Linked DNA regions of Homo sapiens: region 2 is linked to region 1. The links come from fine-mapping of genetic effects on gene expression. A gene starts in region 1. The other region holds a variant in brackets. All regions are shown on one strand. Distances are between the middles of the regions. Region 1 holds the start of ELFN1 (extracellular leucine rich repeat and fibronectin type III domain containing 1). Region 2 overlaps MICALL2 (MICAL like 2).

The links. PIP is the estimated chance that this variant, and not a neighbour inherited with it, causes the effect. A credible set is the group of variants that fine-mapping cannot tell apart.
Region 2: its variant is the best candidate, but not a certain one, in a credible set for the expression of ELFN1 in unexposed skin (GTEx, PIP 0.90).

Annotation. Positions count from the first base shown.
Region 1 is chr7:1,663,369-1,677,930 of GRCh38, forward strand. ELFN1 (extracellular leucine rich repeat and fibronectin type III domain containing 1) reads left to right here and starts at 6,909. Exons shown (of 4, transcript NM_001128636.4): 1 at 6,909-6,986. RefSeq lists enhancers at 5,633-6,340, 6,341-7,047, 7,048-7,754, 7,755-8,461.
Region 2 is chr7:1,438,096-1,452,657 of GRCh38, forward strand. MICALL2 (MICAL like 2) reads right to left here. Exons shown (of 17, transcript NM_182924.4): 2 at 12,145-12,193; 3 at 10,525-10,666; 4 at 9,480-9,670; 5 at 8,618-8,733; 6 at 6,557-7,333; 7 at 4,097-4,389; 8 at 2,496-2,589; 9 at 1,830-1,990; 10 at 745-900; 11 at 194-258; 12 at 2-125. Among named protein-coding and RNA genes, the nearest start is that of MICALL2, 14 kb to the right of the region's middle. RefSeq lists enhancers at 8,758-9,262, 13,718-14,269. The variant G/A (reference allele first, on the strand shown) is at 5,974.

The sequences.
Region 1 (14,562 bases):
GGGTGTGTGCGATTCGGGGGTGTGTGAAGCAGGATGCCTTTGCAACTCTCTGCACAACCACAGTGTGAGCTATGGGGTGGGGGGGGTTCCAGCCTTCCTGTCCCAGTGAGGCTGCGGCATCTTCCTGTGGGACACCGGCTTGCGGCGGGGAGCTGGGGTGGGTATCCACACGCATCTTCCCTGGATGTGCTGTAAGGTGTCTACACCACACAGGCTGCCTCTGGGTACCTCTGTCTGCTGGGGGAGGGGGATCAGGAGGAGATGAATGTCAGAGAGAAAGAGACCAAGACGGAGAAAGAAAAGGAGAGAGGAGAGGCGGAAAGGGAGAGGGGAGAAGAGGAGGAAGAGGAAGAGGGAAAGAGACAGAAAAGGAGGGTGGAGGGAGAGAGAGAGAGGAAGAGGGAGAGAGAGAACAAACATATTCTCTGACAGAGGCAAACAGAGGCGGGGAGAGAGAGCTCCAGAAGAGGCCAGAGACAGCCAGCCTTCCTCCCACCTCCTCTCTTCGGGTCTGTCCTGGGGTGGCCCATTCCCAGCCTGAGGGGGGACAGCAGCCCGAGGCCAGCCAGGCCCCGCGGGGGCCCTGCCTTCTCACGGGACAGGAGGGCATATTTCAGCATTGGAAGGCGCTGCAGAGGGAGTCAGTCAGGGCTGAAATTCCTCAGCGCCCTGGAAGGTCCGCGGGACAGCTCCCTTCTCCCAGCTTCCTCCAAGGAGCCAGGTCCGGGACTCTCCAGGCCCCTCGAGTAGGGGAGGGGGGAAGTGAGAGAAAGGGGCTGTGTGCGCACCTAGGCCACTGCGCGCTTCAGAGCAGCCGGGACCCTCCCTGAGGGACCAGGAAGAGACCCCCCCCAGGCCGGGCTCGGCCCGCTCTGTCTCCCTGTTCCCTGGAGGTCTGGGCGCCCCCGCGCAGGGACTAAGGGCTGGACAGCCGCAGGCAGGGGCTCCGTCCTTGGCCTCCACCCTTCGTGTCCAGCAATCCCGGGAGCAGGCGGCGGCACTTCCTCCATGCCCCGGCCTCAATCACGGTCTCAGTCCCCCCAACCCCGTCCTGCAGGAACAAGTGTGGTAGAGGCTCGGGGTCGGAGGGCGGGCGGCCGTCCCGCGGGCTGGACGGAGTTTCTGGGCTGCGGAGAGGCCGTTGGACCCACGTCCGGACAGGAGCCCCGCGCGCCCATCCCCGGCCCGGCCATCCTCGGGGCGCGCTGTCTGCGGCCTCCCGCGCCACCCCCACCCCTGTCCCGGGACCTCCTCCGGGAAAGACACCCGGGGAGCAGCCCCCTCCCCTCCAGTAGTCCCCTCCCCTCCCCTCTCCCTGCCCTCTTGACGGTGTGGGGCTCCCCGGCCGGAGGGGCGCGGCGCTGGCAGCGGGGTCCAGAGTGTCGCGCCCAGCGCGCGCTGGGGGTCCCGGGCTCCGCAGCTCCGCACGCGGCCGGTTTGTGAAGCGGCGCGCGGGGGCTTAGCCGGGCGAGGGCGCTCTTGAGCCTGGTTTGGAATTTTTAGCCCACACGAAAGCCGCAGGCTGGGGAAGGGGCGGGTGGGAGCGGGAGACGCCCTGGGAAGCCGTGAGACCGCTCGGCGAGGGCTCGGGACCACCAGGGAGCGACGGGGGACCCCTCGGCTCAGAGCCCGAGGGCGCGATTTCGGATCCGCTGGGATTCCGGAGGCACATGAAGGGAGAGGGAAATCCGCTAAACCGAACCTTCCGGGAATCGGAAGGCGCCGGGCCGCTCCCACGCCTCCCCCTCCTCCCGGCCGAAAGGCGGGGGGCGACGCGCAACGGGGAGGGAAGGGAGGGAGGGGTCGGCGACCTTAGGGGAGGGCGAGTCTCTGGGGACGCGGGGCCGCCAGGGGCCCGACGACCCTCTCGCTCCACCTCCCCGCCCCCAAGTGCCCCGCTCTCCCCCCGCCCCGCAAACGCGCGTCCTGCGGGCTGTGCTTTGGCCCTCGCGGACGCGCGCGCTCACAGAGGGTCTGACTTGGGGTCAACTTCCACGAGGTTGCCGGGCGCCTGTGAGCACAGCCGTGTCCCCACCCAGGGGCCCACCTCCCAGCGCCACCAGGGTCCCGACCCCCAGACCTTCGGACGCTTCTCTTCCAAACCGAAGCCTGGGAGCCTCTGGGTGGCCTGGGGCGGGGGCAGGGGGCGAGCGGGGCGGGCCAGGAGGAGGGGGCGAGGCCGCCACTCGGCTTCCCACGCCGCCCCCGCGGCTGGCTCCAACTTCCCCTCCGGAGCCCCCCTCCGGCCACCCCCCAGCCCACCGACGTGCGGGCAGCGACCCCGCCCCCCGCCCCTCCGGTCGCCCCCGCCGCGGCCCCCGCCCCCTCCCCATCCCTCCCCGCGCGCTCTCCCACATGAAACCTTCCATCACGCTCAGAAAGAATGTGCTACAACCTCGGCGCTGCCGCGGCCGCCACCACTGCGCCCGCGCCCGAGCCCGAGTCGGAGCCGGAGCCGCCGCTCCCCCGCCTGCCCGGCCAGCCCCGGGCTCCGAGCGCGCGGTCCCCGCCGCCGCCGCCCCGCGCTCGCCCCGCGCTTGACGCAGTGAGCGCCGCAGCCTGGCTCCCGCCGGCTCCGCTGGGCTCCGGGTCGCAGGCCGAGTCCAGCCGGGCGGGCTCCGGGAGGGGCCGGCAGGGCGGGAGGGGGAGGAGGGCTGTCTGGAGCCAGCGAGCCCGGAGGAGGAAGAGGAGGAGGAAGGAGGGGAAGCCGCCGCCGCCGCCGCCGCGCTCGGGGAACCGGGGTGCGCGCGCTCTGCTCGCCCGCGACAGTGCCTCCAGCCCGGGGCCCGCACCCCGGCCCAGGTAAGAAGGGGCCTGAGGGGCAGGGGGCTGTCCGGGGCCGGGGGACCCCTCTGTCGCCGCTGCGGGATCGGAGGGTCCCCGCCCCTAGGGGAGGCAGGGAAGAGGATGCTCTCTGGGGGGGGCGGCGGGGGGCAGCGCAGGGTCCCCAGCGGCTCTCGCAGCCCGGGCCACCCCATCCCTGGTGCCCTGACCTCGGCGTCCGCGCCAGGGCCGAGTCTCCCCGCCCGCGGGGCTCTGGATGCGGCGCTCGGGGCCCGCGGCTCCCGGGCGTCCCCATCCACCCACCCAGGTTCGGAGGCGGGCGCACCCGAAGTTAGCGGCCGCCGAGCCTGGGCCGGACAAACTTCCCTCCCCGACGCCGCGGCTGGAAGGGCCAGGACTCCGGACCCCTAGGGCTAGGGAGGCGCCGCGGGGACCCCGAAACTTTCCGGAGCGCGCTGAGAGCAAAAAGCCGGCTGGGCAGAAAGAGGGGGAGGGGGCTGGGCGCGCCTTCGAGTGCGCTGGGGTAGCCGCGGCGCCCCAAGTTGAACCACAGACGAACCCCTCTTCATCTGAAACCTGGTCTCGGAGTCGGAGGTGGGGAGGGAGTGGGCTGTGGGTGCCTCGACTTCGCAAAGCCGGCGTGGGGGGGCGCAGCGCCCCGCCCCGCGCCGCTTGAACCTCCGGAGGGGGTGTTACGGGACCCCCGCCCCCACCCCAGCCGGTGGCTGGGCTCTGCCGACCGCTGCGGAGCTCCCGGGAAGGACCCGCTCGCGGCTATTAATAGGCGTCGGTGACCCTAGCCTCTCCCGGTCCGGGAAGCTGGCGCGGCGGGGCTGGGCTGGGCTGGGCTGCCGAGTGGGGCGGGACCCCGGGGCCCAGAGCGGACCCCCAGCTCTCCTGGTCCCTCTTCCGCCGCTCTTCCCTCCCTGCCGCCTGCTTTCCTCCCATTTTCCCTCTTCGATCTCGGGGTGTCGGCCCCCCCCCGAACTTTTTCTCTTCCCAAACTGCACGGTGGCCACCCGGTCACGGCCCTGGGCCGTACCCGCGCAATCTCAGCACCATTCCCGACCGAGTCCTCCGCCGCGGGCTGAGCGCGAGTCCCCGGGGCCAGGCTGCCCAGGGAGGAGCAGGGACTTCCTACAATCCGCGCCCTTCCTCCCAACCCACGGCGAGCGCAACACATTCGCCCGCCCCTGCGGCCCCATCTGAGGGCGGGGAGAGGTCGCTGGGGGCAGCTTCGGGGGTTGTGGAGGGCAGGGGGGACCCGCGAAGCTCCTGGAGCGTTTAGGGATGCAGCTCGGGCGGCGTGTGCAGGGAGGAAGCAGCGTCCCGGCGTCCCCCCTTCAGCGTCGCCTTCGCGCGCCTCGAGGGCCCAGGAGGGTTCGGTCTCCCCCACCCCACCTGGACACTCAGGTCTGAGCCTGAGTGGATTTGAGGATCTGGGGGACGGGGAATACGGAGTCCTTCTTCCTGCCTCGGTGTCTGCAGAGCCCAGCCCTCAGGCAGCGTGGGGATCTTTGTCCCCAGGGCCAGCGCCGGCCCCGCCCCCCGCCCCGTTAACTCCGGGACTCCGCCGCCCTCCAGGTTCCAACCTCCCAGCTTCACCGCCGCGTCCTCTCCCCGGTTCTGGGTCTGGGGGAGGGGCAGGGGGCGTGGAGCGCGGCGTTGGGCCCCGGACAGATGTCCTCGCGGCGGCGGCGCCGGCGTCCGGGTAACAGCAGGCCGCCAATCGGCGCGGCCACGGGGGAGGGGCGACCCGGCCGGGACTCCGGGGACTCGGTCGCAGCCGGACGGCGCAGCCTCCGCTCGGGGTGGGGGGGGGGGGCGGCCGCGAGGACTCGACCCCTGCCGTGCAGCCCGGCCTCCAGTCCTCTGCCGTCCCCTCCCCCAGCTCCAGGTTTCGCTCTCTGCTGGGGTCCTGGCTCCTCAGGTTGCGGGATCTCGCCTCCCACGGCCCCGCGCGCGTACCCCTACCCGCCCCTCAAGTTGACCTCTGAGGTTCTCCGTGGATCTCAGACCCCGAGTGACCGCAGAACTGACCTCTGGGGTCAGGCAGTACCGGTCAAGGGCGCTCTGAAGAGGCCCTCGGCCTCAGTTTGCACCCCGAGGAAATGGACTCATCATGCCTGCTCCTGGGAAGTAGCAGGACGTCCTGGCGCGGCTCCTCCGGGCAGGCGCCCAGCACAGCGCAGGGCACACGGGGGACACCTGCGAAGGCAAAGGAGGCTCATTCCAGAGCTTCGGCTGCACTTGGCCAGCACAGGCCTGGGGGAACCTGCTGGAAATGGGGATCCAGTACCTCTCTTGGGGTTTATGTTTGGCAGGCGGAGTGGATAGGCTGGGGCCCGGAGCCCGGTGGTCATCTTCTGCACAAGGCTGGCCAGGCCAGAAGCTGGAGGGTAGCTTACTGGGACCTTCCAAGCGTGACCAAGGAAGCTCTGGGGGCCGACCAGCTTCTCCCTAGTGGAGCTGCAGCTGGGGAGACCTCACAGACAGGCAGGGAGGAGAGGGTGCCCCGCTCACCGCCGGCCTCGTTCCACAGGCCCAGGCCTGGCACATCCCAGGCTTGCAGTATCTATCTGGTGGGTAAACAAGGACCTGCTCTTGGCCTGCGGCCTGGCTCTGACCGTGGTCCAGGTCGGGGCAGAGGGAGAAAGGCCACAGCTTAGGTGTTCCAAACCACCGGTGCCCTTCCTGCCGGCCCCTGGGGCTGTGCTGGGTTTCCAGGGCCCCTGCCCCCCAGTATTTGCATGAAATCGTGGGGGCGCACTGGCTTTCGTCCTAGCACTCCCCTTCAAGGCTCTGCACCCCTATCACGGGAGCCCCACCCAGCCAGCCGAAGGAGGCCACAAGCTCTAAATTACTAAATTCGGGCCAGTGCTGGGGGCCTGGGAGCCAAGGCAGCTCAGAGCCCACTCTCCGATTCTGGCTCCTGGAGAACCCTAGGACCCGGGCGTGTCAGGCCCTGCAGCCGGGCTAGGCCGGTCCATACAGGACTGAACGGCGTCGTGGGCGTTCATTCACATTCCCTCTCCGGTCCCCACACACTATAGGATTTATCTTGATTTGCTGCCTTTGAATTGAGTCAACTCTTTTGTATGCTCGTTGAATTGCCCAGCTGCTGGCGGCGAGCGGAGAGCGTGCCGGGGGTACTGAGGCCGGGAACCAGAGGCGGGCGGGGGACAGGAAGCGGGGAGGGGGCGCCGGCGGGGACGCGCGGGCTGCGCGGGGACTGGAGAGGGTCCCCAGGCGCCGGCCGTTCTGCGAACGCGGGCTTGTCCAGGCACCGCCGGGGCCTGCCCGGCCCGAGCGTGGAGTCCCGAGGCTCCTGCCGGGGGTCCAGGCTGCCCCTGGGGCTCTGCCTTCGACGCGCTGTGTAGGGCCAGATTCTGGGCCTCTCTTGACTCAGTTTCCCTTCCTGTAACATGCGGACGGGGGCTTCCGCACAGGCAGGTTGTCAGGGTGAAACTGAGCCGAAGAGTGCTCCAGAACCCCCTGAAGTCCTCACAGAGGTTGGGGTGAATGAAGGAAGGAAGCGGGGCCAGGGCTGGGCAGAGGAGGCCCGGCCTGCGCCCTGCGTTCTCCGCCCCTAGGTCCCTGCCCTCCCGGATAAGGGGCGGACCGACGGGAGGACCTGAGAACGCCTTGGCTTTGCTTGAGGTGGTGGGAGTCGCGGGTAGCTTGTTCAGCCAACAGCTGTCGCCCCCACTCCCCCCACCCACCCACCCACCCCCTCCACCTTTTAGATGTGGGCGGGGAGGGCCGGGGACGGACCGCGAGGACGCCCCCTGCGCTTTCTAGGACCTCCCCTCCTTCCCCAGCCCCTGCGCGTCGCCGGGAGAGGGAAGGAGCGGGTTGCCGCGGGGAGCCGAGGAGAGCAGGGGGCTCGGGAGGCCAGGGAGAGAAGGGGAGGGCCAGAGGCTCCGAGCCGGACTCGCGGCGGAGGAAGAGGGGGTGGAAGGGAGCGCGCAGGCGGGCGAGGGAGCGAGGGAGGGAGAGAAGGAGGGAGGGAGGGAGGGAAGGGGGGCGGGAGGGGGCAGGGCGAGCTTGAATTCCCCCCCGGCCGCGCGGCGAGGGGCGGGGCCGCGCGCGCAGATCGATGGGCGAAGCTGGGGAGGAATTTCAATCCCGGGAGCGAAGTTAGAGCTTGAAGGACGGCGGCGGCTGCGGGCGCAGCCCCGGAACCGAGGCCGGGCGGGCAGGTAAGCGGCGAGCGCGGCCGGGCGCTGAACCTGGGGGACTTGGGACCCGGACCACCCCCGGGGAGCGGCGCGGCCAAGCCCCCCGCCACCTCGAACCCCGGGCGTCCCCGAGTGCGCAGCGTGCGCCCCCAGCCCCTGCTGCGCCCCCAGGCCTGGCGCGCGATCCGAGCGCAGCGGGCAAAGTTGGAGGAACTTGGCGGCGGCGGAGCGGGCGCAGGCTCAGCCCGACAAAGCCCGGGGGCCCGGGTCGGGGTCGCTGCCGCAGCCCGCACGCTGCCCCGTGCCTCCGAGAGGTCCCTTCCCCAGCGCCTCTCTCCCTTCCGTCCCCCTTCGCCGTCCGCACCCTGCCCGGCGCCCCCCAGACGCGGCCCCCTGCCCTTCCCTTCCCGGAAATTAGGGGGCTGTCCTCACCTCCTGGCCGAGTCGCTGACCCCTCCCCAGGCTCGCATCGCCCTCCCTGCTGGGCCGCCCTCCCCCCGACGCTGCGAGCCTCCTCGCTCCGCGCGGGGACCGTCCAGTCACGCACGGGGAGGGGTCACATTCCTCGGTCCCAGCCCCTGAGTCCAACCACTGGCGGGGGGGTGGGGTGGGGGGCTTCGCTCCGAACTGAACTTACTGGGTGCTTTCCACCCCTCGCCCCACCTGGAGTCCATCCTCGTCCTCGTCCCTCTGGGGGCTGGGAGGAGGCTGCCAAGCCTCCGTGCCCCAACCTGCCTCTAAAGACAAGCGCCCCCATTTCCATCCTTTGAAACCTGCAGGTCACCTGCTTGATGCTGAGGGTGGGGCGGGGGGCACTGCCTGCCGTACCGCACACCGCCCCCCCCCCCATAAAAACGACACCCTCTGAGATGAAAATCCGGCTTTTCCAGGTCTCAGCTGTGTGACCTTGGGGCAGGTGAATCTCAGAGCCTCAGTTTCCACACCTGTGAAATGGGGCTAGGATGATCATGCCTTCTGAAAAAAACGAAGGCTTAGCAGAAAGGGTCGAGGCCGGCCGAGCCAGGTGTGCACGTCCTCAAAAAGCCTCCGTGCCAGCACTTTCCCTTCCTGCACACCCGGAGTGGGGCCTCTTTGGACCCTGGCTTGGGCTGGCTGCCTCTGCCGCTCATTCCCTCGATTGGGCTAAGGGCTGTGCGGAGAGCCTGGGGACAGAAGCTGTGGAGGGACCGGGAGCCAGGAGCAGATGTAAATGGCAAATCTCCCCATATTGCCTCTCTCAGGGGCTGCCCCCTAGAGAGGCCCCCAGCCTCCAAAGAGGTCCAGCTTGCACCCAGCCTTGGGGGAAACCCCATTGGGTTGGGCATAGGTTGCTTGAAAAGCATCAACATGCTCCTCTTCTCTGCCTGGCTGGCCCCCTGGCCTCCTGCCCCCTGGGTCCCTGCCCCTGCCACCTTTTAATTGAACAAGCATTGAGAAGACTGGCTTACAGGTCCCAGCCCAGGTTTGCGCCCCACTCCACCAAAGCAGGGGGACAAACTCCAGGGGGCCGTGTGTGGGAGGGGGTCACCCCCTCACCTGGATTTGAGGGGGTTTGGAGCCCAGCCAGGACCCCAGCACTTGGGTCCCTCATTTTCCTGGGCATACGGTGGTCAGGGAGTTCTGATCCCCACCCCTAGTGGGCAGAAGACCTGGGGGTCTCCAAGTCAGAGATTGGGGGCCATGCCCCTCCCCCTGTCCTACAGCCAGCTGTGCAGCCCCCTCCTCCTCGGCCGCAGCAGGACTGCTGTGTGCGTATAATTCAGGATGATACAGCAGGCTCGGCAGGCAGCTCCCGACTCCCAGAAAAGCCAGTGGGCACCTGAACCAGAGCCACACTCCTGAGGCCTGGTAAGTCTGGGGTAAGGGTGCAGGGATGTGGTGGGCACCTGCACCCAGGACCAGAGGAGGGGAGGGAGGGCGGCGTCCCTTCCCCACCATGCCCCAGGACTGCCACTGGAAAGCACTGATTTTTCAAAGTGTCTTTGGAGGCAGGCTCCCCACACCTGGGCCAGGGAGAGGCTGCTGCTCCTCCACCTCCCTACCACGGTCCCCACCAAGAAACAGGTGTCCGGGGTCCCAGCAAGCGCCCAGGGCCAGAGCCTGGAGTAGTTGCCTGTCTCGGACCCCGGCATTTGAATATTTTCACCCTAAATGTATACTTGTAGGCTTCACCTGCTCTCCAGGAGAGAAAAATTAATGGGACTAAAATATGACCACAGTGCCTGAGATCAATGGGGTAAAATCGGAGTGGCTGCCTGGGTCCCATGTTGGTGACTTTCTCTATCTGTTTCCAACACACACGCATCAGCTCTAGATTTTGATAGAATTTTCTAAGCACTCAGGAAAGCCTCCTTCTAAGGTCCCCCTGAGGTCAGAGCCCCCACCCCAGGATCCCTTCCCCCCCGACAAGCCAATTCCCCATTTTGGTAGGGGACTGTGTTTCTCCGTGCCAGACTCAGACACCATCGCATTGGAGGAAATTTATGAGCAGAGGTGCATGGACTTGGGGTGTTCATATATCTTCACAAGAAAGAAACAGGCAGGCCCTCGAGATGCCCGGGTGGGTGGTGCATAAATACACGAGGGGGCCGGTGGCGGGGCGGGGGGCAGGATTAAAAATGCAAGTGAGTGACAGGCGAGAGATAGATAGATCTCCAGGGCTGGGTGATGAGGCCATAAATTTCCAGGCGTGAACCTGGAGCGGATGGTGGCACCGCCGCGGACATTGGATACATTTGTCATCTCTCCAGCGCCCCCCCCCGCTCTTTCCTTTTTGTTTTTGTTGTGGATTTGGTTTCTTCCAGCACAAGCTCAGGTGTCAAGTGGCCTTGGGTGGGTGTTTGTGGGGGTGGCTGGTGGTGGAGCCACTGCAGTGGACGATGGCGCCATCCATTCCAGCACCAGCTGTACAGATGGGGAGACTGAGGCCCGGATTGGGGTGGGGCCGGAGAGGGTGGTGGAGGGGTCCTATGTCTGGCGTCTGTGTCCTGTTGTGTTGGTTCAGGTCAGGGGATTCCAGCAGGGTGGGAGGCCTTGGTCGTTGGGGGCTGCTGCCTCCCTTCACCCCTGTGCACCCTGAGCCAGTCAGTGGCACCGACAGTAAACAGGAAGCAGGGTGGCAGCTATGGGCACTCGAGCCCAGCACCGTGCCCCCCCTCCCCGCCCCCTGCCCCGGATGTCCCTTTCCCAAGGCTGGTGGATTGAGACCTGGTTCTGTCCCACCTCTTCCAGCCTCCTGGGGAGGGAGGGCGGGAGGTGAGAGACCACCCTGGGAGCGCTGATGGCAGACAAGGGCCAACTGTGTGCCCTACCTGGAGCCTGGGACAAAGCCCAGAGGAGCCTGGCTGCCTTGGAGCTGGCATCCCCAGATGGAAAGACAATGGTCTCACAAATAAATGTGCCTCCTTTCCCTCGGAGATCAGCCGGTCCAGCCCCTGAAGATGGTCCAGCCGGTCCATTTTCCAGAAGGGTCCAGCATCGCCCGAGGTCACACAGCAAGTAAGCTGGAGCTGTGGCTGGACCAGGCCTCCACACCTGTAGAGCTGTCCTGGGGCAGCTGGGGTCTTGGTCTTGGAGAAGAGCTGGAACCCAGGCTGAGGCAGGAGGGGGTCCAGCAGGGCTTGAGGGACCTTCAGAGGGGAGGCAGAGAGGACGACTACTCCGCTCCCTGCTCCAGGCCACGGGGGTACACAGGAGCTGGTGGGGAAACTGAGTCAGGCGGCGAGGACCACTGCTCTGCTCCCTGCTCCGGGCCGTGAGGGGTGCACAGGAGCCAGTGGGGAAACTGAGTCAGGCAGAGAGGACCACTCCTCTGCTCCCTGCTCTGGGCCATGAGGGGTGCCCAGGAGCCGGTGGGGAAACTGAGGCAGAGAGGACCACTCCTCCGCTCCCTGCTCCGGGCCATGGGGGTGCACAGGAGCCAGTGGGGAAACTGAGCCATGGAGGCTGGTCCACACAGCTCTTCCCCACCCACATGGCTAGGACTCCTGGGGCTGTTCTGTGGTGGGAGACCCTGGAGTCTCAGGATCTCGGTTACTCAGCCCCGGTTGCCTCCCTTCTGCCCAGCAGTTAGTTCCTCAGGACTCACGGCTTCCAGGCTCCCCTCGCCTGTGAGCCGGACCCAAGCTCCTCTTTGGGGCTGAGGAGGAGGGGTCTAGCTGGCCCCTATAGGGTGGGCAGAGTTTAGATAACCCCACAGGAAGAGGCAGGCATCCAGGCAGGAGAGGCAGCGGAAGGGAAGGTGTGAGGCCCCCAGAGCAGTGAGGGGGGTGGGGAGAGGGGCCATGACAGTGGACGGTGACCCCCCCGCCCTCGACGTCTGCCCTAATGTCTTCCTCTGCCAGTTCCAGGACAGACTCGGGCAGCCACAGTGGGAGAGACTGGTGGAAGGGACAGGGCCTTGCCTCCCTGTGTGTTGTGCCCAGTGCCCCCACATGAGGCTGGGGTATATTGGAAAACTGCACTCTGGGCTTCCGAGGGAGGGATGGGGACAGAGGAGGCACAGCCGGGCGGGAAACATCCTTCGGCCCGGGCCAGCCCAGCCATCACCAGGTCCACTGTGTTTGCTAGAGCCCCCAATTCAATCTCTGAATTTTAAAGATAGGGACACTGAGGCGCAGACAGGGCAGTGGCCGCAAGCCACTGAGGCTTGCAGGCAGTGGTATCTGGGCTCAGCCCTGCTCCCATGCTGGGCTCCCCACACCTCATATCCGGGCTCAGCTGGGAGAGTGCCCTGGCCTTACCGACGGGGACCCGGCAGCCCACGGCGTGGAGGTGAACCAGCTTGTCTGGGAAGCCACATTCCACCCCTGTGCACCCCCAGGCCCTCTGTGGCCCACTACCCCCTCTAGGACCCCACCCCACAGAAGCGCATCTCTCTGCTGTCCGCCCCACTCCAGTGGTAACTTCTGTCAGAGGGCTTGTCACAGAGTGCTGACCGCGCTGAGAGCTTCTCACCAGCGCTGGACATGTGGCCAGGTGGCGGCCGAGGGCTCGGGGGCGGGGGTCTGTCCACGTGACAGGTGCACACCCCGGCATTGCTGCCCTGACATTTGGAGGCTGTTGGGTTGGGTCCAGGCGGAATCCTTCCTGGGATGGAAACCCCGGGAGATGATTGACAGCCTGGAGGCTCCCCCGTGTTTACCGACAGATCCGAGTCTTATTTTCAGCAGGATCAAACTCAGGCACCTCTTAGTCATTAACTCTCTCTAGTTTAATAAACACAGATACAAACACAGCCAGCCATGTGCCCGCCCCACATGGATGAGAATCCCGCCCGGCTTCCTGGGGCCGAGGAGCGGGGTCTGGAAATGGGGGGGCCGTCGGGGGGCTCCCCAGACCCTCGGCCGGTGCGCAGGAGGCCCTGCAGGGAGAGGGCTTTGCAGAGCACACAGTGAGGCGTCGCTGGCCCGGAGGGACGAGTCAAGGACAGCTGTGTGCCTTCACAGTCCCGCGCTGTCGAGACACAGCCCGAAGTAGTGGCTGGGAAGGTGTCCCGGAGATACCCACAGCACAGCTGCCCCGCCAGGGCTGCATGAAGGGTTGGCCAGCGCTTGGCTCCCTCACTGCCATCTCGACCTCCACGGCCTCCCTAGAAGCCCAAGGGGCTGGGGACCCTCAGGATGTGTCTCCTGGGCGTGGACTCTGGGCTGTGCTGTGGCTCCTGCCTGGCCCCCGCACTGGTCAGAGTGCTGACCGAGGGAGGCTGCCTGGGAGGGGGACTGGGATGCTTCCCGGACATGTCTGGAAAGGTGGCAGCTGGTTCCTAGACCAGATCCCAAGGGAGATGGCATTAGCCAAGTGCCTACCTCTGCCTAAAGGGTGCTGGTAGTGGCTCCAGGGCACCCTGGAGAGGAACCCCCAGTCTGTTGTCTCCCTGCCTGAGGGGAGCCTGCACTGAGGCCTCTGCCCTCCTCACTGACAGACTGCCCCTGTGTCTGTTTGCCCCGTGGAAGCTGTGGAAGGGCCCGGCCTCTGCCCTCTTCACTGAGGGACCACCCCTGCATCTATCTGTCCTGTGGAATGGTGGAAGGGCTTGGCTGCAGATCATGGGGTGGCCCGGGCTGGGGAGCCTCTGGTGTTCGGCGTGACCTGAGGTGGGTCCCTTCCCTTCCCGGAGCCTCGGCCTCTCCTCCGTCATGTGAGGACGGGGGTGGATGGATGGCTGTGGGGAGTGTAAATGGCTGACACCAGTTCTGGAAAGGGCAGAGCCGCCACTGCTGGCAGAATCCCCCGCCCTTCTGACTTGCCCTGCATGGCCCTCAGACCTGCAGCCCTGGAACCTGGATGGGGCGCAGGTTCGGTCCCTGCGTCCCTCTGTGCCCTGCTGTGCAAAGAGACAGGGAAGGAGGATGCTGGGGAAGGGAGAGCAGGTGTAATGGCCCCGCAGCCGAGACACGCTTCGTGTGGGTGAAGGGCAAGGCCAGTGCAGCTGGCCGTGGGGGCTGAGAGGTGAGCGGGAGAGGCCCCAGGGTCCGGGCTGCTCCTGTGTCGGAGCTCTTGGGAAGAGTTGGTTGGTACTCGGATTGCTTCGGGAAGTCTCTGGGGAGTTTGCAGCAGCTGAGAGACAAGGCTGGCTTTAAAGCATCCCTCTGATGTCGACGGAGAAAGGGTTTTTAAGGGCACACGAGGGAATGAGCCACCCAGGGGACTGCCGACGTCTGAAAGCCATGAGGGTAGCCCGTACTGGGTGCCGACGCTGGCAGCGGAGAGACAGAGAGGATGTAACTTCTGTTTTGACAGTGCTTAGAAATTGGAGCTACATTCCTATAGAGAAAAATATTCTGTAAGGCAAAACCCATTTTCCTATTTATATTCATTAGGAAATGAGGGAGGCCGTCCTGTGGAGAGGAAGGTTGTGCGAAGCAAGTCCTGCTTCCCTTTGACAGCCATTAGCATTTCAGAGCTGTGTTCTTGGGGAGATGAACCCCCCAGAATGGATTGGTATGAAACAGTGGGGTCATCTTGGCACAGAACCCCTCAGGGTGCCCACAGAAGTGGGGCTCAGGGCCCATTCCTCAGGTATCCGGCACCCCGGCTTCCTCCAGGAGACGGGATTCTCAGATCTTCATTTGCGTGTGGCTCTGGGTGCAGATGGGTGTCCAAGTGAATATGGGAGCAGGCACGCATGTTCACGTGTGTGCGTGTAGATTACCACTTGTGTGAACAGAGGACTGTGCAGGGGTGTGTGTAGGTTCGCGGGTGTGTGCATGTAGATTCGTGTCTGAATATGGGAGTGTGCACACACGTGCATGAACTCACGTGTGTGTAGATTAGTGTCTGCGTGAATAGAGGTGTGTGCACACCCTCCTGGCCCCCCCACCCCTTTCCCCTCTTGGACACCACAGTGGGCAGCCGATGTGGGTTCATGAATGATCGTGGCTCTGATGTGAAATTCCTTCCGTCTGAGGGTTAGGTTCTGTAAAATGAATTTGTTGTCTGCTTTTTCTTTTTTTTTGCAAATTCAGTCGAGCGGATGGAGGCTCTGAGATGCAGGGAGCGTGTGGAGCTCCCGCGGGTTCCTGGTGGGTCTGGGAGCGGCCGGCTCCCCTGTCCTTGGGGTAGGCAGGGAGGGACGTCAGGAAGAGAGTCAGGCCCC
Region 2 (14,562 bases), 230 kb before region 1:
CCTCCCTCGGCCGCCCGCAGTCGCTTCTCCAGCTCCACGCCGCGGAGCTCCAGGGCGTCCAGCCGCCTCTCGATGTCCTGCAGCTGCCTCTGTATCTCCTCCGGGGAGAGGTAGTCGGGGTGCAGCTGGGAACGGAGGGGCGGTGAGGATGCCGGAGGGCTGGGCCCCTGCCCGGCTCCCCACCACTACTCACCCTGACTGGGGAGGTCACCGTCTCGCCAGGCAGAGCAGGGACATTGGCCGGGGACAAGGGTCTCCCTGGAGAAGGAGCAGGGTGAGCCTCTGGGACCTGGGCCACCAGGCCCAACGTGACCAGGACACAGCTTGGAAGGAGCCTGACCTCAGCACAGCACAGCTGGCCCCAGCCCTGCCTCCCTAATGCCCCACACGCCCACTGGACTGCCCTGACCCAGCCCCACAGACACCTGAGTGGCCTCCAGGCCCAGCCCCACCCTGCACCCTGCCCTCCTCCAGGTCAGCAACACCCCAGCCACCCCAGTCCCTCAAGCTGCCAGAAGCAGACATTCCATCATCACCATGAGTCTGTAACAAGGTACTCTGAAACAGCTAGGGTCTCTATTCATGAGGGCGGGCCTGGGGCACGGGGCTGGGTCCTTCCTCCAGGCTTTCCCTCCATTCTAGGTCCTGTGAATGCATCCTCCAAAGCCCCAGCAGGCATTGCCTCCTCAGAGGAAGGCTCCCTTCACGTACACCCCAAACAGCAGCGGTGTCTCTGGGGCTGACCTGGTTTGCCCTGAAGGTGAGGTTTCTTCTCCTCCTCCTTCCAGCTCTGCACTCGGGCTTCCTGGCCAGGGGGCTCCGGCCGAAGCCAGTTGTCACAAACGTCGAGGCTGGCAGGGACGGCCAGTCTCCTGCGGCGGGGTGGGGAGGGGGACCTGGCTGCCCCCAGGTGGGGAGACAGAGCCACGCTTCAGAGCAGGGCCACTGGGAGCCTGGGGTCTGTCCCAGCACAGCCAACAGCTCGCTGGGTAGCCCGGCCATCCCCATGCCCTGGGCCTCCCGACTGGCACAGGGTTGGCATCACAAGCCCTACACCCACGTCCTGCCCAACCTGGCCATGTCTCCCCAGGGGGCTAACCCACGGGGCTGCTGGCTGCTCAAGGTCACACAGGAAGTGGCACGAGAGCTGGATATGGATCCAGGGCAGCTATGAGTGCTAGGAATACACACAGAGATGTGTGTGCACACACACGCATCACACACGAACACGGGTGCACACGTGGACACACATGCATCACATTCATGAAACAGATCCACACATGGGTACATGCACCACATACATGAACACGGTTGCACACACATGCATCACACAGATGTACACATGGACACACATGCATCGCACATGAACACAGATGTACACATGGACACATGCATCACGTGTGGGCACACATGCATCACATACACGAACACAGACACATGGACACGCATCACACATGTACACATGCATCACACGCATGAACACTGATGTACACATGAATACACATGCATCACACATCACATACATGAACAGACACATGGACATGCATCACGTGCACATGCATCACACACATGAACACAGATGTACACATGCGCACACATGCATCACGCATGGATACAGGCATCACATACATGAACACATGCACACATGCATCACACACATGCACACATGTACACACAAGCCTGCCCAGGACTACCAGCTTCTCTGGCTGACCGGAGCGCCTCTCCGCACACCCCAGGAGGTGGCACTACAGGTCCAGTCCCGGGGCCCCCACCCAAGGGGGAGGGCCAGCTAGGCAACCCGGGGGCCCCTGGGTCCCGTCCAGGAGTACCTGGGAGGCTGGGTCCTGGGCTGGCTGGGCGTGGGGTCCTGTCAGGCCTCACGGGGGTCAGGGTGATGTGGACACTCCCAGCAAAGCTGCCTGAGACCTTCCTGGGGGCCTCCCCCGCCCTCGGCTCTGCCAGGGCCCGTGGTTCCTTGGGCTTCAGAGTCCTGGGCAGAAGGCATGAGGTCGGAACCCGAACCACCAGCCCCAGGGCCTGGCCCACCTGGAGGGGCTCCCAGGCCATATGCAGACCAGCCGGAGGGAGCAGGTGGCCTTCTGAGCAAATGCCACCTCCCAGCCCACTGACTACACCTGCTGGGACCCTCCTGCAAACACACGTGTCCATCGCTACCTGCCGTGGTGCGAAGCAGATTCCAGGCGTGAGCTCCGGGCCCCACGGGACCCACACATGGGGAGACTCCACCCCAGCTGCAGGCATGGTGCGTGAACCCACACGGGTGCTGCCATGCCCAGGTGAGACACGCAACGCTGCCCCCAAACCAGGGACAGCGGCCCCCATGTCCCTCAGGCAGGGGTGACCTGGCCTCTGCTACTCACAGGGAGGTGCGTCTATCCCTGGATAGGCGTGTCAATCGGTCGATTACATACTCACTGCATTTATTAAGCACCTATGGTGTACCAGGCCCTGGGCCAGCCCCACCCATCCCTAACCTCTCAGCTGGGCTTCTCCTGTCCACGGGCTTCAGATTCGCTCTCCATCCTGCCGGCCCGTCCTCCTGGCCTTCCTGGAGGCTGGTGCTCATGTCTGGGTGGGAGGCAAGGGGTCTGGGTGTGAGGAAGGAGTGCTGGGAATGGGGTGTCTGCAAGGGTGGCTGTGCCTCCCCCTGCCATCTTCCCATAGCCACTCCACCCTCAGACACCCCCACAGCCAGCCGGCCGGGGGGCATCAGGAGCACCGGGCAGGGAGTCAGGGGAGGGGCTCCCAGCTGGCTCTCCTGTGCTGTGTGTCCCTGGGGGAAGCTCTCCCTGCCTCTGGGCCTCAACTTCCCCTTCTGCCGAATGGGTGGGGACGTGGCAGGGTGAGCCCCGTGGACCCTGATCCTCTGTCCACCTGTGCAAGGGGAACACCTGAGCCACGGCTGCCCGTCTGCAGGCTTTCTTGGCTCCTGGGTCCTGCAGGATCCAGCGCGTGGCTTTAACAATGAGAACTCAGCCAAAGAGAAGGATCTGGAAAAACCCTTTGCAGCCCAGCTTGTTCCCTGAGCCCAGCTCGATAAAGCCATGGGAACCTCTAGCTTTTTTCTACACACACCCAGGTGGCAGGGACAGCCAGTTTCCTGCAGTGGGGCGAGGCGGGGGGACTCGGCTGCCCCCAGGTTGGGAGACAGAGCCGTGCATCAAAGCAGGGCCGCCAGGAGCCTGGGGTCTGTCCTGGCACAGCTGACAGCTCACTGCGTAGCCTGGCCATCCCAGTGCCCTGGGCCTCCCAGCTGGCACAGGGTTGGCCTCACAAGCCCTAAGCCCACGTCCTGCCCAGCCTGGCCATGATCACCCAGGGGGCTAACCCCTGGTGGGTGACAGCCAGTTGCCTAGAAGAAAGCTCGCTCCCTGTTCCCGAAAACACGTGAGGCCATAAAACAGGACTGTGTGGTCCAGGGAGCCCCCAGGAAGAGCTCCCAGCCTAGGAGGCACCAGAGCCCTCAGGTCATAGGGCATCGTCACCAGACCACCACCGGGGGGGACGGAGCACAGGGCGCTCTCACCTGGACACCACCAGGGGGACAGGGCATACTGGGACACCAGCGGAGGGGACGGGGCATAGGGCACCGTCACCGGGACACCACAGGGGGGACGGGGCATAGGGCACCATCTCCGGTATGTGGTGACACAGGGTGCCACAGCAACAGCGCGACGTTGTCAAAGCGACAGGCAGGAAGCGCAAAACACCACGGGAGAACAGGAGGCCCCACAGACCACGGCCAAGCCAGGCCACTGCTAGCCACAGGATGTAACTGCCAGACCGAGCTGAGCGGGACGCTGCAGGGCTGGGCTGCAGGCACCTGCAGGACGTGCGGATGGGGTGGGCTGGGTGCCGGCAAACAGCATAGCCCTGAGGACATTTGCAGCCACCACACAGAGAGCGCACCAGGACCCCAGGAGGCTGCGAGCAGGTGTCACGGAGGACAGAGATGAGACGGAGAGGAAGGCGGGCGGGGCTGATGATGAAACCGCACACACTGCAGAGTGCGGCCAGGGGAGAGTCCCAGAGCTGCGGGCCCCCGGGGCCTCCTGCCTCCCAGCCCCTTACTCACCCTGCGTTAAGGTGGTGCTTTTACCCTTTGCCATCGGGGCCTCTGGCTTCGGCCTGGAGCCAGCACCCACCCTGCCGACCCCTGAGGATTCCGCCAAGTTCCTCCTGCCTGCCGGGGGCAACGCGGATGCCTGAGAGGTACTGCTCGTGCTCAGCGGGGCTGGCGGTTCCATCCTCGAAGGGAGGCCAAGCACCCGGGGAGACGAGGACTGTAACGGCTTGGCTAAGGGACTTGCTTGTGGTGCTTCAGTTTTGGGCTGAGAACTGGGAACAGCGGCAGTGGCTGGGGAGGGCCTATAAGTAAAAGCGCAGGCATCAGGCACAGCTGGATCCAGGCGCCCTCCCACCATCACCCGAGGCCGCCCCTCTGCCTCCCTGCAGCTCACTCCCAATGCCCAGCCTCCGGACGGACTCCCACCATCACCCCAGGCCACCCTCCACCTCCCCCACCATTGCGCCAGGCCACCCCTCCGCCTCCCCCACCATTGCACCAGGCTGCCCCTCTGCCTCCCTGCAGCTCGCTCCCAATGACCACCCTGGCAAGGCACAGGCCACAGACACCTGTTTCTGGCATGAGCATATGCTGTGGTTGATTCTCCTCCCCTGTGAAATCCAGTGTTGGCTGAGATTAAAATATCCACCCCCTAAACACACCACCCACCCAGGCTGGAGGCACCTGGGGCTTTGTCAGAGGCTGGGCCGGCCTGGGCTGCCAGGTTCAGTCCCATGTGACACAGTCTCTCTGGCCCCGCCAGACACACAGACACAGGGCCAGACACAAGGCCTCCGTGCCTTCCTGCCTTCCCTCAGGCACACACCAGGAGTGAGGCTGCCAGAGCCTGAGGTGGGGGCACCAGGTGCCTCCCCACCCCCGAGCCAGTGCCTCCATGTCCCCACCCCCCTCGACAACCAGTTTCCCTCCCCCCTTTCCCTTTACACTGGGCTCAGGTGTGCCAGGCCAGCTTCCCCAGAGGAGCTGGGGTCCTCCCCAGCCACACATGCCCCCCGCCCCACCACCTAGGAAGCACTCCCTGGAGCACCCCCGCCACTCATCCTCAGTCCCTAGGATGCCCTGGACACCCCCCAGTGCCAGGAGGAGCAGAGCGAACTCGCTCTTCTCCTGTCTGTGACCACCCCGGAGGCTCTGAGCACCCCCTGCTGACCACTGCGGGGGCAGGAGGCAGTTCTGAGCAGGGGACGCCTGCACCCCACGATACGGGGCAGGAAACGGCGTTGTCAGCCAGGCTGCGACAAGCATTCTTACTCGCTAAGTGACTGTACTTGGTCGAATGGTGACCCCTAAAAGTCATGTCCACTGGGAAGCTCAGAGTGTGACCTTATCTGTAAACCATCTTGGCAGTTATGATCATGTTAAGATGCACTCACGCTGGGTTAGGGTGGACCCTAGTCCAACAACCATGTCCTTAGAAGAGACAGAAGAGGAGAAGACAGACAGAGAGAAGGCCACATGGAAACGGAGGCAGAGACTGGAGGGAGGCGACCACAAGCCAAGAACGCTCAGAGCCGCTGGGAGCTGGAAGAGACAAGGACAGGTCCACCCCTAGTGCCCTGCAAGGGGACGCGGCCCTTCCCCCGCCTCAAGGTCAGACTTCTGGCCTGCAGAGCTGTGAGGGGGTGGATTTCTACTGTGTAAGCCGCCCAGTGAGGGGGTCTTTGGAAACTGATGCAGCGCCCCCCTCTACCCGTCCACGTCATCTGCTCAGGGTCCAGGCACAGGCAGGCGCCGGGCCCAGGCATGGAAGGTCAGGGCCTGGCTGGACTCAGTCAGACAAGGTGATGCTCAGCCCAGCCAGCGTGGGTCCCGCTCGCGACCTGTCCCCGCGTCCACTCAGACCCGCCAGCGTGGGTCCCGCTCGC[G/A]ACCTGTCCCCGCGTCCACTCAGACCCGCCAGCGTGGGTCCCGCTCGCGACCTGTCCCCGCGTCCACTCAGACCCGCCAGCGTGGGTCCCGCTCGCGACCTGTCCCCGCGTCCACTCAGACCCGCCAGCGTGGGTCCCGCTCGCGACCTGTCCCCGCGTCCACTCAGACCCGCCAGCGTGGGTCCCGCTCGCGGCCTGTCCCCGCGTCCACTCAGACCCGCCAGCGTGGGTCCCGCTCGCGACCTGTCCCCGCGTCCATGAAATGGGCGTAGGACCCTTGGGTTCCAAGGGAGTGCAGCACAGGGGGCCCCGGAGCGGCAGCGCCACCGCACCCATGACGCCCCGAGCACATGCGGACAGCAGCTTTTCCATAAGGACCCGGCTTCCACCACCCTGACCACAGGCACTGCCACCCTGGCTCCTCCTCCCCATTCCCCAGAGAAGGAAACAGGCTGGGGGAAGTGCAGTCCCCAAGGCCACACAGCCAGGGAGGTGCAGCGCCCCCAACCCCTCTGGCCTCCGGGGCCCCGCTGGCTGGTGCAAAGAGGCCATACCCGGGGTCCCTCGGTCCCCACGCGCTCACCTGCCAGGCGCCGGAGCGCCAGCCTCTTCCAGCGCTGAGAGGGCCTGCTTGAGGAAGTTCCGCGCCTGCTCCTTGCTGCTGTCCTTGGATAGAACAAGTGACGGGGTGGGACCTCTGCCAGAAAGGCTGGTGCCGGGGGGCACTGCTGATGTTTGGAAAAACTTATTCCGGGCCTGCTGGGTCCTGGAGGCGGACGGGGTCCAGGCTGGGGGGTCCACCGTGGCTGCAGATGTGGAGCTTGAACTGAGTGTGGTTTGAGGAGCTGCCACTCGGGGGGCTCCCCCACCCTGGGGTGTGGCCGGGCGAGGGTCTGGGGCACTCGGGGGCACGGCGGGATGGGAGGCAGCCGCTGCTGTGCACGGGGCAGCTGACGACCAGCCCATCGGGGAGCTATTGGTCACACGAGGGCGGACTTTCCCCTCCGTGGGAGTGGGGGCCAGGCGGCTCTCAGAGGGCCTGGCTGGGCTCCTCACGTGGACGGACGTGGCGCTGGTGGCTGCAGGGTTGGGTGCAGCTGGAACGGAAGCCCTGGCAGGCGAGTTGCCCGCAGCAGGCTCCCAGGCCGACGGTCTGGCCTTGTTTGCCTCCTGGGCCTTCTGTGGGGAACAGGAGGTCCTGGAATCCACACCCATGGCCCCTGGCTGTCGGGGGACCAGACCCGTCAACTTGGGGCTTGCAGAGGCGGCTGCGGGGAGGTGGCTGGTGCAGACGAAGGTGCCCGGCTCTCCTGTGGCCTTGTAGGCCCCCGAGTGCAGCGTGCAGGAGCACTGCTTACACCTGGGGGAGGAAAGGCACAGGAGCCCCAGCTCGGCACCGCCCACCCCGCCACGCATTCACCACGTGCTCCTGATAGCAGGCATTGCGGACTCCTGTGTCCACTTGCGAGGTTGCTGAACGCCCGCCCCGCCACGCATTCACCACGTGCTCCTGAGAGCAGGCATTGCGGACTCCTGTGTTCCACTCACGAGGTCGCTGATTCATTCAACAAACGCCTCTTCTCAGGGTCCTTAACCACTTACATCACAAACCCCACCAAAAACCTCGTTTGGGGTGCAAACCCCAGAGGGTGCTTGTGCAGGTCAGCAGACACACACCCACAGGCCACCCCAGGCCCCACCTCGGGGCTGACCCACCCTGGCCTCACAGCGTGGGGGATGGAACTGGGAGGACCGGCCCACCCCAGCCTTGCAGAGCTGGGGACAGAAGTAGGGGGAACAGCGCTTGTTTCCTAGGAGCCCCCACCCGGGGTGCAGGGTGGCAGCAAGGGGCTGGGGATGGCCACTGAGTACAACACCAGTGGGAAGGGCTGAGGCACAGAAGGGAGACTGAGGCAGTGTGTGTGGAAGGACAGTCGGGAGGGCATCTTGACGGGGGCACTGGAGGAGGCATCTGGACGGGGGCACTGGGGGACACTGGGGCTTAGTGAGGGGCATCAGGTCCTGGGTGTCTGGGAACAGTAGAACATCTTGGGCTATCAGCAACAGAGCGGGGGGTGGGGAAGAGGGTGAGGAGGCGGAGCAGTAGGGAGAGAAGAGTGAAGAGGGAGAGGAGGGGGGAGGAGGGAGAGGAGGGGGGAGGAGGGAGAGGAGGGGGGAGGAGGGAGAGGAGGGGGGAGGAGGGAGAGAAGGGGGGAGGAGGGGGAAAAAGGGGGAGGAGGCGGAGCAGTAGGGAGAGAAGAGTGAAGAGGGAGAGGAGGGGGGAGGAGGGAGAGGAGGGGGGAGGAGGAAGAGAAGGGGGGAGGAGGGGGAAAAAGGGGGAGGAGGCGGACCATTAGGGAGAGAAGAGTGAAGAGGGAGAGGAGGGGGGAGGAGGGGGAGGATAGAGAGGAGAAGGAAGGGAGGATGGGAAGGAAAGTGAAAGGGAGAAGAGGGAGAAGGGGAGGAGAGGGGAGGAGGCGGGAGGAGGGGAGACGGGGAGGGGGAGGGGGGAGGAGGGGAGAGGGGAGAGGGGAGAGGAACGAGGAGCGGGGAGGAGGAGGCCGGGTGGGAGGCGATGGGAGCTGTGGGAGGGTTCTGGGAGGGGAGGTGCACACTCAGGCGTGCGGGCAGAGGGCAGCCCCACCTGAAGCAGCTCCGGTGGTAAAGCCTCCCGTCGGCCAGGTGCCGCTGTACCAGGTGCACGTGCTTGCCGCAGACCCCGCAGGTGCTGCTGACCAAGCTGCCCGCCAATGCCTGGTCCTGGGGAAGATGCCAGCACCTCTCTGAGCAGCCGTCCACCCAGCCCTCCCTCCTGGTGGCAGCCCACAGGTGGCCGGAAGAGCCCATCTTACAGATGGAGAACTGGCCAGGAGAGGAGCCGCCAGCAGGGCTGCGGTCGGGGTCACACCCAGGTGGGTGGCAGCCCCAGTCCAGGGCCTCTAGCCCAGCCCTGGGGAGAGAGCTGAGGCCCGATGCTAGTGGTCCTTCGGTGGCTGGGGGCCAGGGGACAGATTCCAGGCCTCCTCCTGCCCCATTAGGGGCATGGATCCCATCCAATTCCCACCATCCCGGGAGCCTGGAGTGGCAGTCCAGGCATAGCAGGGGCTGCCAACCACCAGATATTTGCCCACCGCCTTCCACCCCAACTCCGCTTCTGAGAAGTGGGGGTGCCTGGGTTCACTCTGCAGAGCCGGCCTTGGGTACAGGGCATAGCCCAGCAACCCTTCTCTCCCCGGGAGAGAGGTATCCTGGGCCCATCTAGGTTCAAGCTCTGTCCCACCTTTGTGCTCTCCCATCTGTACAAAGTGGGATCACAACCCCTGGCTTGATGGAGCCCTGGAGAGCCCGGTCCTGGCGGCTCTTGCTAAGGCTGAGCCCTGGACTGGGGGAGCCGCACCCCACTCTGGGTCCCGTGGCTTAGGGGCCGCACGTAGTCCCACAAGCCCCTTCTGCACCCCCCGGTGGAAAACCCAGAGAACCAGGGGGAGGGTGGGGTGGGAGCTTACAGTCTTGGGGGGCGGGCCCCCTGCACCCTCATTCCTCCTCTGGACCACAGGGTTTGTCTGGGCTGGAGATAGTGGAGGCTTCCGGGCTGGGGCGGGCGAGGGCAGCTTGGCCGCCTGGACTGGAGCCTTCTTCCCTGACGGCTCCTCCTCAGAGTCCTCCGAGGCCCTCTTCACGCCTGCCATGCCCCCAACTGGAGGAATCAAGCAGGGATCGGGAGGGTCCCAGGCCTGGCTCTGAAAGGGTCTAGTCCCTCCAGAGGTCCCAGTGCCCAGCACAGGCCTTGGTGCCCGGGGGGGACCTGGGGGCCCAGGGCTGGGGAGAGGTAACCCTGAGGGCACTTTTTCTGGCACAGCCCCGGGTCGGTCCCCACTCCTTCCCTCCCCACTCAGAGCCCCAGCTGGAGTCAGGGAAAAGGGACTTTTCTGTTTCTCCAGCAGGCAGGGCAGGCCCTGTGCCCGGAATGGTTCTGGGGATTTCTAAACCCTAGAAGAGGAATGTGGGGGTGGGGGGGTGGGGAGCTGAGCTCTACACACACAAAGGCCGGGCCTGTCCCTCCCCTGCCCAGTTCTATCCGGGGGCCCCACCCTGCCAGGCCAGCCTGGCTTCCATAGGGTCCAAAATCAGGACAGATGAAGGTAGGCCCAGGAGCTGCCCCTGGTCAGCCAAGCCACCCCAGTGGGCACAGAAGCTCAGGGGTCCAGATGGGCAAACTGAGGCCCATGAGGGGCAGGGCGGCAGGAGCTGCTGGTGCACCTGGCACCTTGGGGAAGCAGCGGGGGCAGCTCTCCTGCAGCAGGATGAGGGCCCCGGTCCCTCTTGGTGAAGACACAGCCTGGGGCTTTGCATGGGGCCGGGGTTGGGGATGGGGCGCCCACCAAGGCCTCTTGCTGCTTCACAGCCAGTGCACAGCCCCGGTGCCCATGCCAGGGGCCATTCTTGGGGGGGGGGCTGGGCATGGACCCCAAAAAGTCCACAGGCCTGGGAGCCAGGCCAAGGATGGGGGGCCTGGTCCTGCCTGGCTCGGCGGGCGCGGCAGGGACTCACTGGGGGAGCGGCCGTGGAAGTAGTTGTAATACTGGGACACGTAGGTCAAGATGCTCAGCCGGTCAGGCACCTTCAAGGCCACCATGTCCTCGGCATCCAGCAAGGCTGGGATGCCCAAGTGCTCCTCGGCCACGCGGAAGGCCTGCGAAAGGTGGGAGGGGGTCAGCGGGGCAGCTGGGAGCCCCCTCCTTCTCCACCAGGCCGCAGCTCACCTCGACTCAAAGACACAGTCTTGGAGCCCAAAGAGGCGTGGGTTGGAGGCCGGAGCTGAGTTCTGCTCGCGTGGCCTCCCGGCCTCAGCTTACCCATCATTGCAGCGGGGATCACGGTCCCATCTGCACAGGACTGAGGTCACCAGGCCGGTGGGCGCTCAAGGCCCCGTCCAGGTGAAACCTCAGGGGATCCTACCCTTCACCGGGAGAATCCCAGGCCCCACCCAACCCAGACTTACGCAGTCTTGAAACAGCTCCCTCCAGAGGCAGGGCTGACATTGCTGAGCCCTCCCCGGGGGCCAGAAGGGACACACAGGTCGCCATGTCAGGGCTCCCAGGCAACAGGTGAGGGCCGCTAGAGGCTGAGACAGGGACTCGACAGCCCACGCCGTCCAGCCCAGCAGCCGCCGGCCAGGCATGGCTGTGAGCATGGGAAGTGTGGCCGGCACACTTGAGGAACTGGACTTGTTTATTTATTTATTTTTATTTATTATTATGTTTTTGGAGACAGAGTCTCACTCTGTTGTCCAGGCTGGAGCGCAGCGTCAGCTCACTGCAACCTCCACCTTCCGGATTCAAGCAATTCTCCTGCCTCAGCCTCCTGAATAGCTGGGATTACAGGTGCGCACCACCACGCCCCACTAATTTTTGGTATTTTTAGTAGAGACGAGGTTTCACCATGAACTTGTAATTTTAGTTCATTTTAATTAAGTTAAAGCTTAAGTTCAAATTGTCCCCGTGCTGAGCAGGGCAGTGCCGGCCGGGCAGGTATGACTGTCTTCAGTGCTGACCACTGTCCCCGCTGAAGGCCAGCTCCGGGGGCAGGGACGTGGCCGGGGCCTGCCTGGCACAGCACAGGACATGCCTGCAGGGCGCGTGGTGAGTCTGCCGGTGCCTCTGCCCACGAGGGAGCGTGGTGCTTATTCTGCAGCAGGCAAACTGAGGCTGCACACAGGGAAGGGCCTGGAAGCTGGGGTGAGCAGGGCAGGACTGGAATCCTGGCAGGGCCGGAAGGCAGGTCCCATGTGGTGGGAGTGGCAGCAGGCCCACTGGGACCCATCCACAGCCCCCCACAGCCACCCCCAGACCCTTGTTCTGCCTGAGGCAGACTGGGCTGAGCCCCCTTGCAGTGAAGTAGGGTCCCCAGCCACCTCCTGGCACCTTGCTCCCCAGCTCAGGAAAAGAGGGGACCAGTATGCCCTGGGTGCCAAGATAAGAGGCTATTTCTAGAACGCTAGGGTCACCCAGCCCAGGACGCGTTGCCGGGCTGGTCAGGGAGCCCCCGATTCCCAGGCAGGACTCCCAAGGCAGGTGCAGGGCCTGGGGGGAGTCCCTCGGTCCCTCGGACGTGGGTGGGGCTCAGCAGGCTGGCTAAGCCAGCTGTGAGGCCGGGGCGGGGGCCACTCACCAGTTTATTGTTTTCATAAATATTTTCCTTCTTGAGAGCACTGAAGTTTCTGGAAGATAAAAACATGATGTCCAAAGCAGCTCAGAGTCCACGAAGGGAGGGGCTGGAGGGCCTCAGAGGTCATCTTGCCCAAACAGAGAAACCGAGGCCAGGATGGGGGGCTGTGAAGGAATGAGGTGGCACAGGACCACAGGTGGGCAGAGGCCAGGGCTCCCGGCCCTGCTCCGGCCACGGTGATGCTGCTGGGACCGTAGTACGACATCAGACGGCCCCAGCTTCACCTCCTGTACCCTGACAGGCCGCCCCTCACCAGTGCTCCTGCCACAGTCAGAGGTGGCAGGAAGCAGGCCTGGGAGGTGAGGTCACCAGCCCAGGGCGGTTCAGCACAGCTCAGCTCGGAGGGGGCTCTTCCCATCACAACGCTTGGTGACCAGGTGGGTCGCAGAGGCCTGATGCCCCCAGAGGACCACAGGGAACGGAGGAGAGAGGCTCCCAGGGCAGGGGACGGCACCATATGCAGAGAGGGCCAGCCACGCTGCCCCCGAGGGCAGGACAGGCCCCGGATCCACCTCGTCCCACACATCATCGCTTCTGTTGTTGGAAGGGTGACTTCTGTTCACCCTGCAGTGAAGGGTGTCCTTCTCAGCGCTTCACAAATACCAACCTAAGGCTCACACCCGACCTGTGGAGCAGACACCGGTTATGTCTGCATCTCACAGAGACAGCGGCTCGGGGACCTGCCCCAGGTCACACAGCGGGGAGACAGCTGCCAAGCCCACTGAGGTTACATGGTTCTCTCTTTGGGTGGTGGAGTGCCTTCCCAGGTGCTCAGCGAGGGCCCAGCCTCACCCCTGACTCGCACACTACACCACAGGGATGCAAGGGTCCCGGGAAGTTCCCGAGGTGAGGTCCCCGGCCAGCCTGGACAGCAGGGCCCTTCTGGGGACGCCAAGAGGACAGCCCCACGTGACCTCCAGCTGGTCCTGGGACTCCTGATGGGCACCTTGGGAGGATACCCTGGGCAGAAAACACACCAAGATCCCAGGAGGCCCCAGCCCAGCCCCAGGCCCTCCGACAAAAACCACCAGGCTCCCAGCACGGGCTGCGGCTTCTGGGAGGGAGGGTTGGTTAAATCATGATCTGGAAGCCGGGTGCAGTGGCTCACACCTGTAGTCCCAGCTACTCAGGAGGCCAAGGCAGAAGGATTGCTTGAGCCCAGGAATTCGAGATCAGCCTGGGTAACACACTGAGACCCCGTCTCAGAAAAACAAAAATATAGTGATCGTGACCCGTCTGTCCACGTTGCTGCCTGTGGGGTCCCGGACAGCAGCTGCTGCCATGTCAGCGTGAACTGGACTGTTCTAGAAGCTTCCTGGCCCCACAGAGGGAGCTGGGGCTGCAAGCCGTGTCCTGCCTCACCCCGGCCTGCATGTCTGACCCCGGCCAGCCTCGGTCTCAGGGCCTCAGTCTCCCTGTCTGGGAGGACAACCGCAGCTCCTGGTGGCGAATCTGACGGCCGTAGCTGCAGCAAACAGGAAGGCTGGGCAGGTCTCAAACGGAGAAGTGGGGGCCGAGACCCCTGTGGCCACGCAGCCTGGGCGGCCTAGTTCTGAGCCCAGCCTGCACAGCCCTTGCCAGGCCCTGACCCCCATAAGAATGCTCCGAGGCCCGGACAGTGAGCCCATTTCACCTGTTTCACAGATGGGGAAACTGAGGCCAGGCAGCAGCCACACGGTGGGGTGGGGGCAGTGGGATGGGGGCTGCAGGCTGCCCACCTCTCTCCTTAGGAAGCCCCCGCCCCGTCCGCCTGCAGCCCTGCCGTCCATCAATCTGCTGGGATCCTTGGGAACCCTCCACCGTTTCCAGCTTGGACCCCCTCCCAGGTAACAGGTTTCAGACGGCAGGACCACCCGTCTGCACAGGCGGAGCTTCTGCACGCCGGACAAGATGGGGCGCGGACTCCTCTCCGTGTGGACAGATGACGAGGAGCCCCCTCCCTGGGCTCAGTGGCAGCGAAAGCGGTTTCCGTCTGCTCGGGCCTGGGCCGATGCCTCTGTCTGCCTGGGCTTGTCCCCCGAGAGGGTGTGACCCGAGGGCACGTGGGTGGCTGTCTATGCCCAGGGACTCTGCAGCCATGCTGGGCGTCAGCCTCAGCCCCCAGGGCTTAGGAGCCGGCTCTCCCTCCCTCTCTCCCCGCCCCCAGCCCTTTGAAAGCTCAAGCTCTTCTGCAGACCTTCCCTAGGGTCACTGACCAAAGCGGCCATGTCCCCGGAAAGAATGCCCGGACGGCCGGGAGGGCAGTGTCACAAGTCTGTTTTTTCTCTAAACAAGCAGGAGGAGGAGGCTGTCTGCCTCCCGCACTTGTTTCCGTCCACCCCAGGGGCCAGCAGCGGCTCTGTCCAGTGGGTTTCCCTGCAG